Homo sapiens: one gene and its partners. The protein of the gene in region 2 purifies or fractionates together with the protein of the main gene of each other region. This does not show direct contact. Each region holds a gene or a part of one and is shown on either strand. Other genes may lie near its edges.

The links.
Region 1: the proteins of MSRB2 (region 2) and PAK3 purify together in Homo sapiens (affinity purification with mass spectrometry; one large-scale study listed by BioGRID and IntAct). This does not show direct contact.
Region 3: the proteins of MSRB2 (region 2) and NIBAN2 purify together in Homo sapiens (co-immunoprecipitation; one large-scale study listed by IntAct). This does not show direct contact.
Region 4: the proteins of MSRB2 (region 2) and CYRIB purify together in Homo sapiens (co-immunoprecipitation; one large-scale study listed by IntAct). This does not show direct contact.

Annotation. Positions count from the first base shown.
Region 1 is NC_000023.11:111,094,824-111,098,990, reverse strand, and holds the start of PAK3 (serine/threonine-protein kinase PAK 3), read right to left. Parts: upstream 2,801-4,167; 5' UTR 2,576-2,800; intron 2,449-2,575; exon of another isoform or gene 2,254-2,448; intron 1,602-2,253; 5' UTR 1,535-1,601; intron 1,417-1,534; 5' UTR 1,307-1,416; intron 1-1,306. UniProt on the Homo sapiens protein: Serine/threonine protein kinase that plays a role in a variety of different signaling pathways including cytoskeleton regulation, cell migration, or cell cycle regulation.
Region 2 is NC_000010.11:23,102,079-23,105,578, reverse strand, and holds part of MSRB2 (methionine-R-sulfoxide reductase B2, mitochondrial precursor), read right to left. Parts: intron 1,436-3,500; coding exon 1,335-1,435; intron 1-1,334. UniProt on the Homo sapiens protein: Methionine-sulfoxide reductase that specifically reduces methionine (R)-sulfoxide back to methionine.
Region 3 is NC_000009.12:127,510,074-127,513,573, forward strand, and holds part of NIBAN2 (protein Niban 2), read right to left. Parts: intron 261-3,500; coding exon 73-260; intron 1-72. UniProt on the Homo sapiens protein: May play a role in apoptosis suppression. May promote melanoma cell invasion in vitro.
Region 4 is NC_000008.11:130,010,061-130,013,560, forward strand, and holds part of CYRIB (CYFIP-related Rac1 interactor B), read right to left. Parts: intron 1,261-3,500; exon of another isoform or gene 596-1,260; intron 1-595. UniProt on the Homo sapiens protein: Negatively regulates RAC1 signaling and RAC1-driven cytoskeletal remodeling. Regulates chemotaxis, cell migration and epithelial polarization by controlling the polarity, plasticity, duration and extent of protrusions.

The sequences.
Region 1 (4,167 bases), on a different chromosome or scaffold from region 2:
TGCCGACTTGGCAGACGAGTCCATTCCAGGCCCTGCAGAGGGAAACGCCTAGCCCCCGGCAGGTGGGGGTGGGGGTGGGGGACGCGTAGCGGAGGCTTAAGTACGCCCCAGATGCCTAGAACGCTGCACTTACCTTCCGAAGTAAAGGTTTTACACAGTTCCCTGCGCACACAGGGTCCCCAGGGATCCTGAGAAGGAGGGCTTTTTTTCTTTTTTTTTTTTGAGCAGGGGTCCCAGACCAGGCCCCAGCCCACCCATGTAAAAGCAGTCAACCTACCTGTCTAGGCCAGATTGATAGCGCCTCCACTTCCCTTTGAGGCACCGTCCTTCCCCACTGCCCTCTCCTTACCCAGGAGGAAAGAGCCAGTTGTTGAGGCTGCTGCTCATTGAGTTTCTTGTTCTCTTGGTTAAAGCTACTGGTTCCTGAAGGTGGGTTACGTGGGTGGGGATGCTGTTGATTTTAAATATCTAGAATCATCCTTCTAATTCTTGGCTGAGCTACAGCTGCCTCAACCTCCAGAGTTGCCTATCTCACCAGAGAATTCAGGGCTTTTGGGTTGTTGGTAAGGCCACGACTTTTCTTCTCTCTCTCTCTAGTTTGCTCCTGCCTTCCTGCCTACTACATCTGATCTGTACACCTGATTTTTTTTTTTTTTTTTGCCTTGGCCACCTTCTTTAACCTTAATTTAGTAGCTTAGTCTCTGAACACATAATAGCAAACTCTCGGATGTCAGCACCTTCCCATCCCTGCAGTTCTTTTTATTTCTCGTTTCCCTCACCTGGTATGTCCACCACTCACCCTCTCCCAAGACCTCAGCAAACTTGTTTGCCCTATATACCATTTCCACCTCTGACCAGGAAATTCTGCAACCTGTGGGAATGGTTAGCTGGTGAGAATGTCCCTAGGGTCCTGTGTCCCCTAGCTTATAACCCTATTGCATGTGAACCTCCTTTTCCTGTCAGATCTCTCCTACAAGGCCCAGCTGCCTGTCCGGAGACTTGCAGGGTCAGCTCCTTGACATCCTAAGGTCTCTCTGACCTCAGGATTCTCAGCTGTCAGCTCTTGCCCAGGCTACCTCCTAGTCTCTTCCCATTTTGCTTCTTGCATGGGCTGGGGGATATGACACTTGTATCCAGAAACAGAGGCTTACAAATGGCTCTCTCTCCAAGCCTCTGCCTGTTAGTCATTCATTACCATATCAAGTCTTTTTGCCCAAAGTTGCCCCTGATTGGAGGCCTCAAGTACCAAATCACAGATCTTGCCCAATTATAATTTTGCAAATGGCCCAGTGAAAACCGCACTGACCTTTACACCTTGCTCATCCCAGAACAGGGCCACGGTGTTGTCACCAACAGGAATGGACCTCCTTCTGTTCCAATACCTCAGACAGCCATACACTTGGCCTGGATTTGAGTCTGCAAAACCATGAGGGGAGCAAGACTAACATGGCTAAAGGCTTCCCTGCTGAAAGCCGTTTTTTAAAAATAGCACTGCAACCGCCCCCATCATGCTTCCCAAAGCCAAGCCACTCACCCTTCTCTCCTTCGCTTCTACAGACCAACAGCCCAGAACCCTCAAGTCTAGAATCTGGAACTGGATTCTGAAAGGTGGGACCAAAAAAAAAAAAAAAAACAAGTGGGGCCTCTATCTCTCTCCTTGCCTGCATCCCCCTCTTCCCACCATCCCCCACCCCACCCCACCCCTTAACCACCACCTAGGGAAGGAAAACTTGCCAGAGTAAGAATCTAAAATGTTCAGTTCACCCAAAAGTGCGGCAGTAATCTTGCCAGAGCCAGTTCACAAACTGAGGGCAATGTCCCCCAGCGAGCTAAGGGGAACAGGAGAGAAGGAGAGGCAGTGGACCCAATGACACTGCTCCCCAGACAAAGAGAGGGCCAATCCAGGGACCCTGAGCTTTCTGGGGGCGTTATTGCATCATTCCAATCCCCACAGGAGAAGAAAAGGGTCCCCCTGTTATTACCATCCCCCCACCAAAAAAAGGGGAGGGGGATAAAGAAAAATAAAAGAAAGAGGGGAAGGCGCCCGTTTAAGAAAATCGTCACTTTTTCTCTTTCCTCGTGTGTGTGTGTGTGTGTGTGTGTGTGTGTGTGTGTGTGTGTAAGGGGCGGGGGGGTTCTACCCCGGACTTGGCCAGACCGTGGCCACACCCCCTCCCCTTTTCTAGGGAACTGCTGTCACAGCTACTGGGGCTGGGTAGGGGGGCGGGCGGGGGGGTGAAAGGGAAGACTTACAGGCTGACGTAGCTTTCAAGGCGGGTTTTGCCTCAAGCGGCCCAGGCCCCAGTAAACGAGTCTAGGGTTTGACCAAGCGAAGGAGCCCCGGCCCTCTGGGAACGGCCCTGACACACCCACTTGTCCGCGAACTGGGATCATGCAAACTGCTCGCTTGGTCTCAGGGCTCCGGGGAGCCACGTAGGAGACTCGAGGCTGGGGCACAAACAGGACAGGAGGGGGGTCCGGAAAGGCAGAACATCTGCCCAGCAGCCTTAAAGCATCATCCAACAGCCACCCCCTCCCCCGCGGTAGCCCGGGTGCAGTTAGTCGCGGGATTTACCTGCCACGGATCCAGCCACCCCGTCAAGACCTTTCCTCTACCTCCGAGCGCTCCAGCTGGCGGGGCTGGGGAGCCGCAGCCCCGCGGCCGCAGCCGCAGCCCCGGGCCCAGCCCGCTCCCCCTGGCTCTTCTCCCGCCCCCGCACACTGGCTCGAGGCGGGGAAAAGCTGCAGCCCCCAGTGCGAGATCCCAGACGGTTAGCTGGCACAGCTGCCCGCCCGCGGTAGAGCCCCTGCTCGGCAACCGCTCCCTAGCCCTTCTCTGCTATTACGTCACCCGAGCTCTGCACCTTACCTAGGCCAATCAGATGGTGAGCATAAAACTAAAATCGCCCTGAGTGGGCTACTGGGGACCAATCTTTTGTTTCCAGGCAGGAAGCGCCTGGGAGGGGGAAAAAACTGAAGGGGAGGGAACATGGAGAGGGAAAGGGAAAGGAGATGGAAACTTCTACACTGTCAGGGTTGTCTAGACAGAGGTGGGGCCATCAAAAAAGAGGGGCACCTGACAGGATGGAGAGGAGGGGAGAGTTCATGTATCTTCCTTAATTGCTCCCCTCAGGAGAATTGAGATTTCAGATGAATTTTCAGGGGACGAAATCTGTACAGCTACACGGGCACACTTTATTCGGGGGAAAAAACGGTTTCGATTTGGGACACCACCTGTCAGCCAGGCAGGTTAAACTGACGGAATCTCTAAAATACACAGAAAACTAAGAGAGACAGATGTGGCAGTGGAATTCAAAGAGATGGCAGTCTAGATCGGGAAACTACTTTTCTGCATATGAAGCACACACATTCCAAAAAGCAAGGAATTATACAAAAAATAAAAATAACTCTACTTCAAATGGAGCTTAAATGCGATTCTCTCTGTCCATCCTTTCCCTTAAACCTTCAAAGCTTTCTCTTGTCTTTAGGATACGGTTCAAATTTTTGCAGATGGCCAAAGCTTTATAAAATCTAACTCCAAAAATAATCTCTTGCTACTCCAAAATCCATACTCCCCATGATTTGGCTAGATTATGTAAATTATGGTGAATCCCAGCAAGGCGACAGTAAGCTGCCATAAAAAGTCAAATAATACAAAACAATAAGGACATTCAAATTATAATGATGTAAAATATGCCTACAGAAAACGATCAGAAGAGGACATAAAATTGTAACCGTTGGGTTAAACTAGTAGTATTATGAGTAACTTTTTCTTTCTACTTTCAAATTTATTTTCATAAAGATAAATATATCCTCACATACTTAAATGGCCAAAATAGATCATGACCCTTCCCAGTGAACTTTTATTCAATTTTCTCCACACTGTGTAACATCCAGCAATAATTTCTCCATAATGCCAACAAAATAGGTTTCAAGAACAAGAGTGAACTAATATATCTGCCCAGGTCCTTTTAGTAAAAGTCGTACAAAAGAGCTACAGATGACCACACGCGGTGGCTCACACCTGTAATCCCAGCACTTTGGGAAGCCCAGGCGGGCGGATCACCTGAGGTCAGGAGTTCAAGACCAGTCTGACCAATATGATGAAACCCCGTCTCTACTAAAAATACAAAAATTAACTGGGCATGGTGGCATGCGCCTGTAATC
Region 2 (3,500 bases):
TAAGCAACGCGGCACTATGTTCTCATTTATATGTGAGAGCTAAAGAATTTGAACACATGGAGGTAGAGAGTGGAAAAATGGATAACAGAGCCTGGAAAGGGGGTTTCCTACCCTGGAAAGCAGGGGGTAGGGGGAGGATGAAGAGGAGTGGCTTAAAGTCCACAAACATACAGTAAGAGAAAAGGAATACACTCAGTGTTTGATGGCAGAGTAGGAGGATGACACTTAACAAAAATGTATTGTATTCGGGTGACAGACACCCTAAATACCCTGACTCGATTACTATGCATTATATATGTGTAACAAATTTTCTCAAGTACCCCAGAAACTTGTATACACACACACACACACACACACACACACACAGACACACAGAGAGAGAGAGATAAATGTAGCACTGTAAAAAGTGGTGTTATAATGAAGAACCACTGAGGGTTGTTCTCTCAGAAAATGAATGAAAGCTGAGATTGCCAAATGCAGTTTAAATAATGTTTCCACCTCTTACCCGGCAGTCATTCAACATTCACAAAAGTTGATTTTTCGGATGCCTACTAGGCCAGCCACCACGTTAGGTGCCAGGGGTTACAGCAGTGATGGCAAATGCTATGAAGGAAGAGTTCTGCTAGAAGCAACCCTAGCTGGGGGCTAGGAGAAGGTTTGCCAGAGAAAGTGAGATTTGGGCCGAGAGCTACAAGGTAGGTCTGAATGAATGGGTGGAGAGTGTGGGGAGGGATGACGGGAGAGAAGAAGGAAAGCTGGGTGCAAAGGCCTTAAAAGAGAAGGGAGCCCAGGGCATGTGAGAGCTCAAGGGTGGTGTGGCCAAAGTACCGTGTCAAGAGGGAAGATGGCTGGATTTGAGGATAGGGGTGGGAGCCAGGGGCCGTTAGGACCTTATTAGCCATCTCATACTTTTCTTTTTCCTTGAAAGCACTGGGCAGCCACCAAAGGTTTTGAGCTGGGGAGTGATATGGTCAGATCTGTGTTTTCCAAAGAACTCTTTGGCTGCAGTGTGGAGAATGGGTTGGCTGGAGCAAGAATGGCCATGCACAGAGAAGGTGATGGTGACTTGGCCCCACGGGGAGGTGACAGCGGTGCATGGAAGTGAAATGACAGGAAGGTTATTTAGGAGTCAGAATAGAGATGCTGTGTCCAGAGAAAAGTTTCAGGTTTCTACAACTCGATGGATATCAACACCCCGAGAAGGGCACAATGGAAGAGGAAGACCAGGCCTGTGGAGTGTTGCTGGGCAGCTGGGTTTCATAGCTGGACCTATTCCAACTGGCCCCTCACTGCCAACACATGCAATCAGAAAACTGTAAACCAGCTTAGCTTACCGGTTCCGTTCCCTTTTCTCTTGTGACGTAGAACTGCTCCGGGGTTAGTTTCTTTTGCCACTCACTCTTGGCAAGAGGCAGCTCACACGTTGCAAGAGACCCTGTATTGTTAAACAGGAATTTTAAAAATTAAAACAAAAATGCCTGATGGACTTTTCTTCCTTGACCTTTTTCCCTAAGTGTACTGTCACCCAGCAGAATAATCCAGTCCCTTCCTCTCTCTCCCACGAGTTTATTCTTCATGGGGACCAGAAGGCTCAGGCACAAAATGCCTTCATTGACTATTTAATTTAATAAGAAATTAACAAGAAGTAGAGAGCCAGTTTTCTAGTCTTCCTGGGGCACAGAAGTGAAAGAGGCAGCTGAAATATGAAAGAATGCGGAATACATTCCCTTCGGGTACCTAAGGGTAGAAACTGATCCTCTCTTCTCTGATGACTTTTAGAGGAGCAGTTGCTGTCAGAATCTAGCCAGAAGTAGTTGAGGCATTGGGCAGAAAAGAACTGTGAGCTAGTCGGTTATTAAACTCTTCTCCCTTGCTAGTTTATAAGGATATCTCTGATTTTCTTTGTCAAGGGAGGTCTCTATTTTAAAAATCTTCTTGCATGGAACAAAAGAAGAAACTCCCATAGCATATAGTCCTGAAAGAGAAACAGACCTACCATAATCTATTATGATGCTTCATGGTTTTTGTCCATATTTTGTTTTCTTCTTTCCTACTCACCTTGGCATCTATATTACTACATTTATTCACGTGAGTGTAAACCAAGTAACTAGAGCAATACTCTCTTTAGCCAAAGGGAGTAGGAAGCCCAACTCCTATAATAAATGTTTTTAATCATCCAACATTAAGAATCTGAAAGGATTTTATAATGTGTCCAACTCTTCAGTTTGCAGATGAGAAACAGAGGCCCAAAGGGTTAGTAATCTGACTATGGCACTGAAGATGAAACGTTGAATGCCCGTGATGCCAGCACCTATATATCAAACACGTCAGAAGTTACAGTTGAAATTCATTTTAGGTTACAAAAAAAGTCCTAAATTATCCTTCGGCAAGAAAAGACTTATCTCCTCTCCAGTTTATAATACTGAACAATACTGCATTTCCAGTGATACATATAGTTGATTGCTTACATTTTGCTAAAAGGTTTTTAGGCTATTTAATATATTAAAAGTTTTCTTCTTTCTTTTTATTACTGTTATTATTTTTACACAAGGGCTCCCCTAGGAGGTATCTTTTATTAAATACAATCTTTATAAGACTACAGGGGTTTCTTTTTGCTATGAAAATAGATCTCTGAAATTCCTATGGAATATACCTCAGTTAACACATGATTTTTGGGGTATTCGACACTTTGGGAACAAAACAAAATGTATTTATGTGATAATTACTATTGCTCAATGGCCTTCAGAGTTATCACGCAGAATGTCAAGTAATAAATGAAGAAGGAAGTATAGAATTTTTAAAATCACCATTTTGTAAAAATCATCAGAGGATTCTAAAACCCCTGGGTGAAAGACTACTGGGGAACAGATAGTCACATCTTCTCAAAATACAACCCCAAAGTTTATTAATTACAAAAAAGAAAATGCCACTACTTTAACCAAGTAGGCTAAGTTAGCATCACCAACAGTGGGACAAGTGACATCCTGTCTTCCTGATGTGATGCTCTGGAAAGGACACAACATCACCAGTAAAGTTTTCCTGCTGAAAACATTCAATCAGTGTCTCATGAAGAAAAAATCACATAAGTGAAAATTGAGGGAAATTATTCAAAAGAAGGACTGTCCACAACTAAAACCAATGTGTGACCCTTTATTAAATTCTAGATCCCAGAAAAAAAAACAAGAGCTATAAAAGACATTGTTGGTATATGGTGGGAAATTTGAATATCAACTGTGTATTAGACAAGGGTGCTCAATTTCCTGAGAGGAAAACTGTCTTGCAGTTTTGTAGGAAAACATCTTTGGTCTTAGGAAACATGCCGAAATATTTAGCAGTAAAGTGTCATGATGTCTGCAACTCTCAAATGGTTTAGCAAGAGAAATATAAATAAGTAAGTGTGAGTGTGTGAGTGTACGTTTGCGCGTGTGTGTCTCAGTGTTGGGGAGAGAGATGGGGAAGAGCACATGAATCTAGAAAGGAACTGCATCTCTATGAGATTT
Region 3 (3,500 bases), on a different chromosome or scaffold from region 2:
CAGCCGGGGCCCTCTGGGACAGACCAGACCTACTCTCAGGAGACCCCCTCCTAGGGGCGGTGCCGGCCTCACCTCGCCCAGCTTGTCAATGCCGCCCTCGTTGATGACGTTCAGGTTCATGTCCGTGACCTCCTTGAAGAAGACATCTCGCACCTCAGTGAAGCCCTGGCTGGTGGGGACCATCAGGGCCTCCAGGATGGATGGGATGTAGGGCTGGACATGGTTCCGCACGCACACCTCTGCCTTGGGGAGGATGAAGGCTGTGCCCCGAGGGAGCCGGGTCAGCAGGGGCTCCCCAAGGAGCACCTCCCAGCCATCCCAGAGCCCAGGTGCTGGAGGCTACTGTATTACTATTATTATCATTATTATTATATTTTTTTTGAGACGGAGTCTCGCTCTGTCGCCCAGGCTGGAGTGCAGTGGCGCGATCTCAGCTCACTGCAACCTCCACCTCCCAGGTTCAAGCAATTCTCCTGCCTCAGCCTCCTGAGTAGCTGGGACTACAGGCGCGTGCCACTGTGCCCAGCTAATTTTTATATTTTTAGTAGAGACGGGGTTTCACCATGTTGGTCAGGCTGGTCTCAAACTCCTCACCTCGTGATCCACCCGCCTCGGCCTCCCAAAGTGCTGGGATTACAGGCATGAGCCACCATGCCCGGCCTATTATTATTTTATTTGAGACAGGGTCTTACTCTGTTGTCCAGGCCGGAGTGCAGTGGAATAATCAAAGCTCACTGTAGCCTCAAACTCCTGGGCTCAAGCAATCCTCCCACTTCAGCCTCCTAATATTATTATCATTTTTATTTCAACTTTTATTTTAGATGCAGGGGGTACACTGCAGGCTTGTTCCATGGGTACATTGTGTGACCCTGAGGTTTTGGGTAGGATTGATCTCATCACCCAAGTAATGAGCACAGTGCCCAAAAAGTAATTTTTCAGCCCTCTCCCAACTCTCTCTTCCCATCATATTATTATTGTTATTAATTTTTGAGACAGAGTCTCGTGCTGTCGCCCAGTCTGGAATGTAATGGCACGATCTCAGCTCACTGCAACCACTGCCTCCCAGGTTCAAGTGATTCTCATGCCTCAGCCTCCCAAGTAGCTGGGATTACAGGTGTGCACCACCATGCCCGGTGATTTTTTTTTGTATTTTTAGTAGAGACAGGGTTTCACCATATTGGCCAGGCTGGTCTCAAACTCCTGATCTCAGGTGACCCGCCCACCTCGGCCTCCCAAAGTGCTGGGATTATAGGCGTGAGCCACCGCGCTCAGCCCCCATCAATACTTTTATTATTATTATTATTTTAAGAGGCAGAGTCTCACTGTGTTATCCAGGCTGGTCTCAAACTCCCTGGGCTCAAGTGATCCTCCTGCCTTGGCCTCCCAAGTGCTGGGATTACAGGCATGAGCCACCGTACCTGGCCAATATTATTTAAAAAAAAAAACCACTGGGGGCAACATTAGCAAGCTGAATGATTTCAGAGAAATAGTGGATAAAGATGAGAAATCCATGCAGGAAAAATGACAAGGTGTTCTGAGATTGGACTCTGATCTTTCTGAAACCATGATGGCAAAAAACTAAGAAAACTGCCATCTGACAAGAGATTAATAATCAGAAAATATAAGGATCTCAAACAAGTCTATAGGAAAAAAATCCTAGTAATCCAATTAAAAATGGGCAAAAGATTTGAATACATATTTCCCCAAAGAAGACATATAAATGGCAAACAGGCATATGAAAGGTACTCAACCCAAAACAGGCATATGAAAAGGTACTTGACATCACTGATCAGAGAACTGCAAATCAAAACTACAATGAGATGCCACGTCACCCCAGTTAAAATGGCTTTATCCAAAAAAAAGAAAATAACAAATGCTAGCGAGGATGTGGAGAAAAGGGAACCTCCGTACACTGCTGGTGGTGTGAAAGGAAAATATCTTAGGCCCCCAGAATTACGAAGCTAAAGGGAAAAGTCAAGCTGGGAATTGCTTAAAGCAAACCCACCTCCCGTTCTATTCAAAGTCACCCCTCCGCTCACTGAGATTAATGCATATCTGCTTCCCTCCTTTGGAGAGGCTAATCATCAACTCAAAAGAATGCAACTATTTGTCTCTTTTCTTCCTATGACCTGGAAGCCTCATGCCTGCATTGAGTTGTCCTGCTTTTCCTTCAAGTTCTCCCGCCTTTCCGGACTGAACCATGTTCATTTTACATTTTTTTTTTTTTTTTGAGACAGGGTCTCACTCTGTTGACCAGGCTGGAGTATAGTGGCTCGATCTCGGCTCACTGCAGCCTCTGCCTCCCAGGTTCAAGCAATTCTCATGCCTCAGCCTCCTAGAGCAGCTGGGACTACAGGCATGCGCCACCACATCCAGCTAAGCTTTGTATTTTTAATAGAGACGGGGTTTCACCATGTTGGCCAGGCTGGTCTCGAACTCCTGACCTCAAGTGATCCACCCGCCTCGGCCTCCCAGAGTGCTGGGATTACAGCTTGAGCTGCTGTGCCCGGCCCATTTTACGTATGTTGATTGATGGCTCAGGTTTCCCTAAAATGTATAAAACCAAGCTGTGCTCTGACCACCTGGGCACATGTCATCAGTTCCTCCTGAGGCTGTGTCACGAGTGCGTGTCCCCAACTTGGCAAAATCAACTTTCTAATTTAACTGAGACCTGCCTCAAATTTTCAGGGTTCACAGTGGGAATGTAAATGAGTACAACCACTATGGAGAACAGTTTGGAGGTTCCTCAAAAAACTAATAGAGCTACCACACAATCCAGCAATCCCACTGCTGGGTATATACCCAAATAAAGGAAATCAGCCCATCGCAGCGATATCTGCACTCCCGTGTTTGTTGCGGCTCTGTTCACAACAACCAAGATTTGGAAGCAACCTAAGTGTCCATAACAGACGAATGGATAAAGAAAATGCGGTACATATACACGATGGGGTACTATTCAGCCGTAAAAAAGAACGAGTTTCAGTCATCTGCAACAACATGGTTGGAGCTGGAGGTCATTATATTCAGCCAGGCACAGAAAGACAAATATCACATGTCCTCACTTATTTGTGGGATCTAAAAATTAAAGCAAATTGACATTTTGGAGGGGGCCTCCCCTGTGGGAGCAATAAAAAAGGTAAAAACAGACAAATAAACAAGCAGAAAACAAAGCAATTGAGCCCATGGAGATAGAGTAGAAAGATGGTTACTAGAGGCTGGAGAGGGTAGTCGAGGGCGAGGGGGAGATGGGAATGGTTAATGGGCACAAAAAGTAGAAATGTCAGAGGCATTTGAATCAGAGCAACTGTATCTTAAATAGGAGCTGGGTAAAATGAGGCTGAGACCTACTGGGCTGCACTGCCAGGCGGTGAAGGCATTCTAAGTCATGGGATGAGATAGGTCGGCACAAGATACAGGTCATAAAGACCATGCTGATAAAACAGGTTGCAGTAAAGAAGGTGGCCCAAAACCCACCAAAACCAAGATGGTGATGAGAGTGA
Region 4 (3,500 bases), on a different chromosome or scaffold from region 2:
CACTGTCCTTCCCCCACCTTCTTATCAAAGGATGCTGGTGCTGGGAGGGGGAAAAGACAGAAAGAGGATTAGTCTCTGGCATGGTTTATGTTGATTTCAAAGCTGTCACTTTTCCCACATTGGGCCTTCTTTTTCACTGTGGATTTAAGTGCCTAGTCCCCTGATGAACGAAGGTCAAGGGCAGAGGTACATTTTGAACTAGAGAAAGTCCTCAGCATCCTCCTGCTCTCACAGCCTTACTGCTAAACACAGCAGTGGATGCAGAGGGTGGCACTGTGGAGCGGTGAGCAAAAACCAGGCTCAGGAGCCAGAGGCCTAGGTTCCAGTCCTGACTGTGCCTCTTGGTCAAGATGCTTCCCCCCAGGAGGTCCCAGTTCCCTTGTGTGTTAAAATTAGAGTACTGGATGCTTAGGCCTGAAACTCTGAGTATGGGGTTTCTGCTCAGTCCTTCAGCTCACACTGCCTCTCCTCCCCCGCTCCCTGAAGGCAGCCCCATCTCAATGGCTCACAGCATCTAGGCCCTCCTGGGCTTATTCAGCACCTGCTGGCAGACAGAGGTGGTCTCTCTCCCACCCCTTCCTGCTCCCACTGTCACCTGTCCTGAGGTCCATCCTAGGCCTTTGTCACTTTGTCATATGTGTGTTTTCGCATGCATGCCTCCTCCTCTAAGCTAACTTGGAAACCTCCAGGGTCATGTAGAGATTTGCACCATCAGCATCAGCCTGGCTCCTGAATGAATGAAGGGGAGAGGGTCAGGTTGGATGATCTCCTGGCCCACTGCACTCAAAGTATGGTCTACAATCCAGAGGCATCGCATCATGTGCAAAAGTGTTCAAAATGCAGCATCTCACCCTGCCCCAGCCCCTGCTCAGAACCTCCGAGGCAATCCCCACGTGATGCGCAGCACACTCAAGTTTGGAAAGTTCTCTTCCAACTCCTCCCTCCCTTGCTTCTACCACCTAGAAGCCTCCGGAACTATGGCCTTAGCAGGTCTCACTAAAACATAGCCCATCATTAACCAAAAGAGATCTGCCTTAGGAACCTTCTAGAAGCCCGCCACTGACTCTCACAAGCAGAATCTGAAATGTGTGCTCCCCGGGGGGACTCCTGGCACACATTACTCAGTGGCCCTCTCCGACCCTCAAGGAAGCCCAGGAAGCTTTCAAGAACGCTGAGGCGGCCAGGCGTAATGGCTCATGCCTGTAATCCCAGCACATTGGGAGGCTGAGGTGGGTAGATCACCTGAGGTCAGGAGTTCGAGACCGGCCTGGCCAATATGGGGAAACCCTGTCTCTACTAAAAATACAAAAATTAGCCTGGTGTGGTGGTACGCGCCTGTAATCCCAGCTACTCGGGAGGCTGGGGCAGGAGAATCGCTTGAACCCGGGAGGCAGAGGTTGCGGTGAGCTGAGATCATGCCATTGCACTCTAACCTGGGCAACAAAGCAAGACTCCATCTCAAAAAATAAAAATTAGGCTGGGCATGGTGGCTCACGCCTGTAATCCCAGCACGTTGGGAGGCCGAGGCGGGCGGATCACAAGGTCAGCAGATTGAGACCATCCTAGCAAACACGGTAAAACCCCATCTCTACTAAAAATACAAAAAAAAAAGAAAGAAAGAAATTAGCCAGGCATGGTGGCGGGTGCCTGTAGTCCCAGCTACTCGGGAGGCTGAGGCAGAAGAATGGCATGAATCCGGGAGGCGGAGCTTGCAGTGAGCCGAGATCGCACCACTGCACTCCAGCCTGGGCGACAGAGCGAGACTCCATCTCAAAACTAAAAATAAAAATAAAAATAATTAAAAAAAAAAAGAACGCTGAGGCCTGGCAGAGTCAGACAGACTGGCTGCCCACTCACCCACACGGATCCCATGTCCACGTTCAGAAAGCTCTCTTCCCTCATTTCTCTACTCTTGACATTTATTCAGCTTGTAAAGAAAAGGATCCTTTCCAAAACACGTCTTCAGTTTTTTAATAAACCCCGCAATTCCTTTAATGATTTCAGATTATCTTAAATATTTATAAAAATCACTCTCAGCAACACTTCTTTAAGCAAACCTCCTCATCAACTTCGATTATTTATATATTTATGAACACGATGTTCAAGGAGCAGATGGCAGCTAGTAAGTCCTCCAAAAGAAGGAAAAAAAAAATCAATGGGACAGAATGTAAGCTCCATGACTCGTCCATGTACTCTTCTCGACAAGCTCTGGTACAATTATCTTTCCATTCAGCGGAAGCGCCACACAAAAGTCCACAATTGGTTTAAAATAGCACACTTGGACTTCATAAAGCTTGGAGGCTCCAAGTTTAATCCAGGAATGACCTGCCAGCCAAGGGCTCTATTCCCAAAGGAAACTGAAGCTCTGTCAGGGGAGGGTAAGACATTGGATGCAGGGACAGATGATGGGACCAGGGGAGGGACAGAAAGAGCACCAGGGGCTGAGGGAAGAAACAGACATTGCTGAGCACCTCTAGGTGCCATGCTCTCTGCTGGGCACTTTCCATACAACCTCTGGGTTGATCGTCACAGCAACACTTCCAGGTGGCGACTGTTAGTCCTCATTTGAAAGATGAAGAGAAAGACAAAGAGAAAGGAAGTATCTTGGCCAAGGGCACAGAGCTAGTGAGTGGCAGAGCCAGGATGTGAACCCAGGCTGTAGGGCCCCAAAACCTTCACTGCCTCTAGAAAGAGAAAAGGAGGAGAGGAAAAAAAAAATATTGCTCTCAACCTCATGCATCCTAGGCTAACAAAGTTGCCTTTCTTTCAGCCTGGTGAGGCCAATCACCCATTTTAAGACTATCAAAGACTTAATTGCCAAAGTTCTACTGAAGCAAAAGGACCTGATCCATCTGAGAGCCCAGAGAAGGATGAAAAACAAGATTACAAGGCGTCCGTCTTCAACAGGCCTTTATCAAGTATCCCCTTTAGGGAAGAGAAAAAAAATCAATCCTTCACTCCTCCCACCCGAATTTCCTTCTTTCAAGAAGCTCCAATTCAAGCTAAAACAGAGAGATGAATCTGGCCTTTGAGACGCCTATACGCTTGCTGAGCAAACAGTGATTATTACTGTTGTTGATGATGATAACAATAATCATGGATGGTGATCACTATTATACGGGGTGTGCAATGGGAACAGGGGCCTATGCTAAGGACTTTGCTTATGCTACTGCCAGGAGCAACACATCCCCGTGACACATGCGCCCATTTTACAGATGAGAACACTGAGGCTCCAAGAAGGCAACAAACTTGGTTCCATGCACACGAGCAGTGAGAAAGAAAACCAAGGCATGAATTTGGATCTTACTCTCTTACTCAGGAGCCCTGGGAGACCAACGGGGATTCTTTTGCCTGTTTAGAGATGAGGAAAAGAGGGGGCCGAGAGTGTAGTGACCTCTAGAAGGCTGCACAGCCAAGAGATAGTGAAGGTGTGTCTGATAAAATTCATACTTAAAATCTGAATTTTCAGCTATACAACACTTCCTTTACAATGCTCAGTG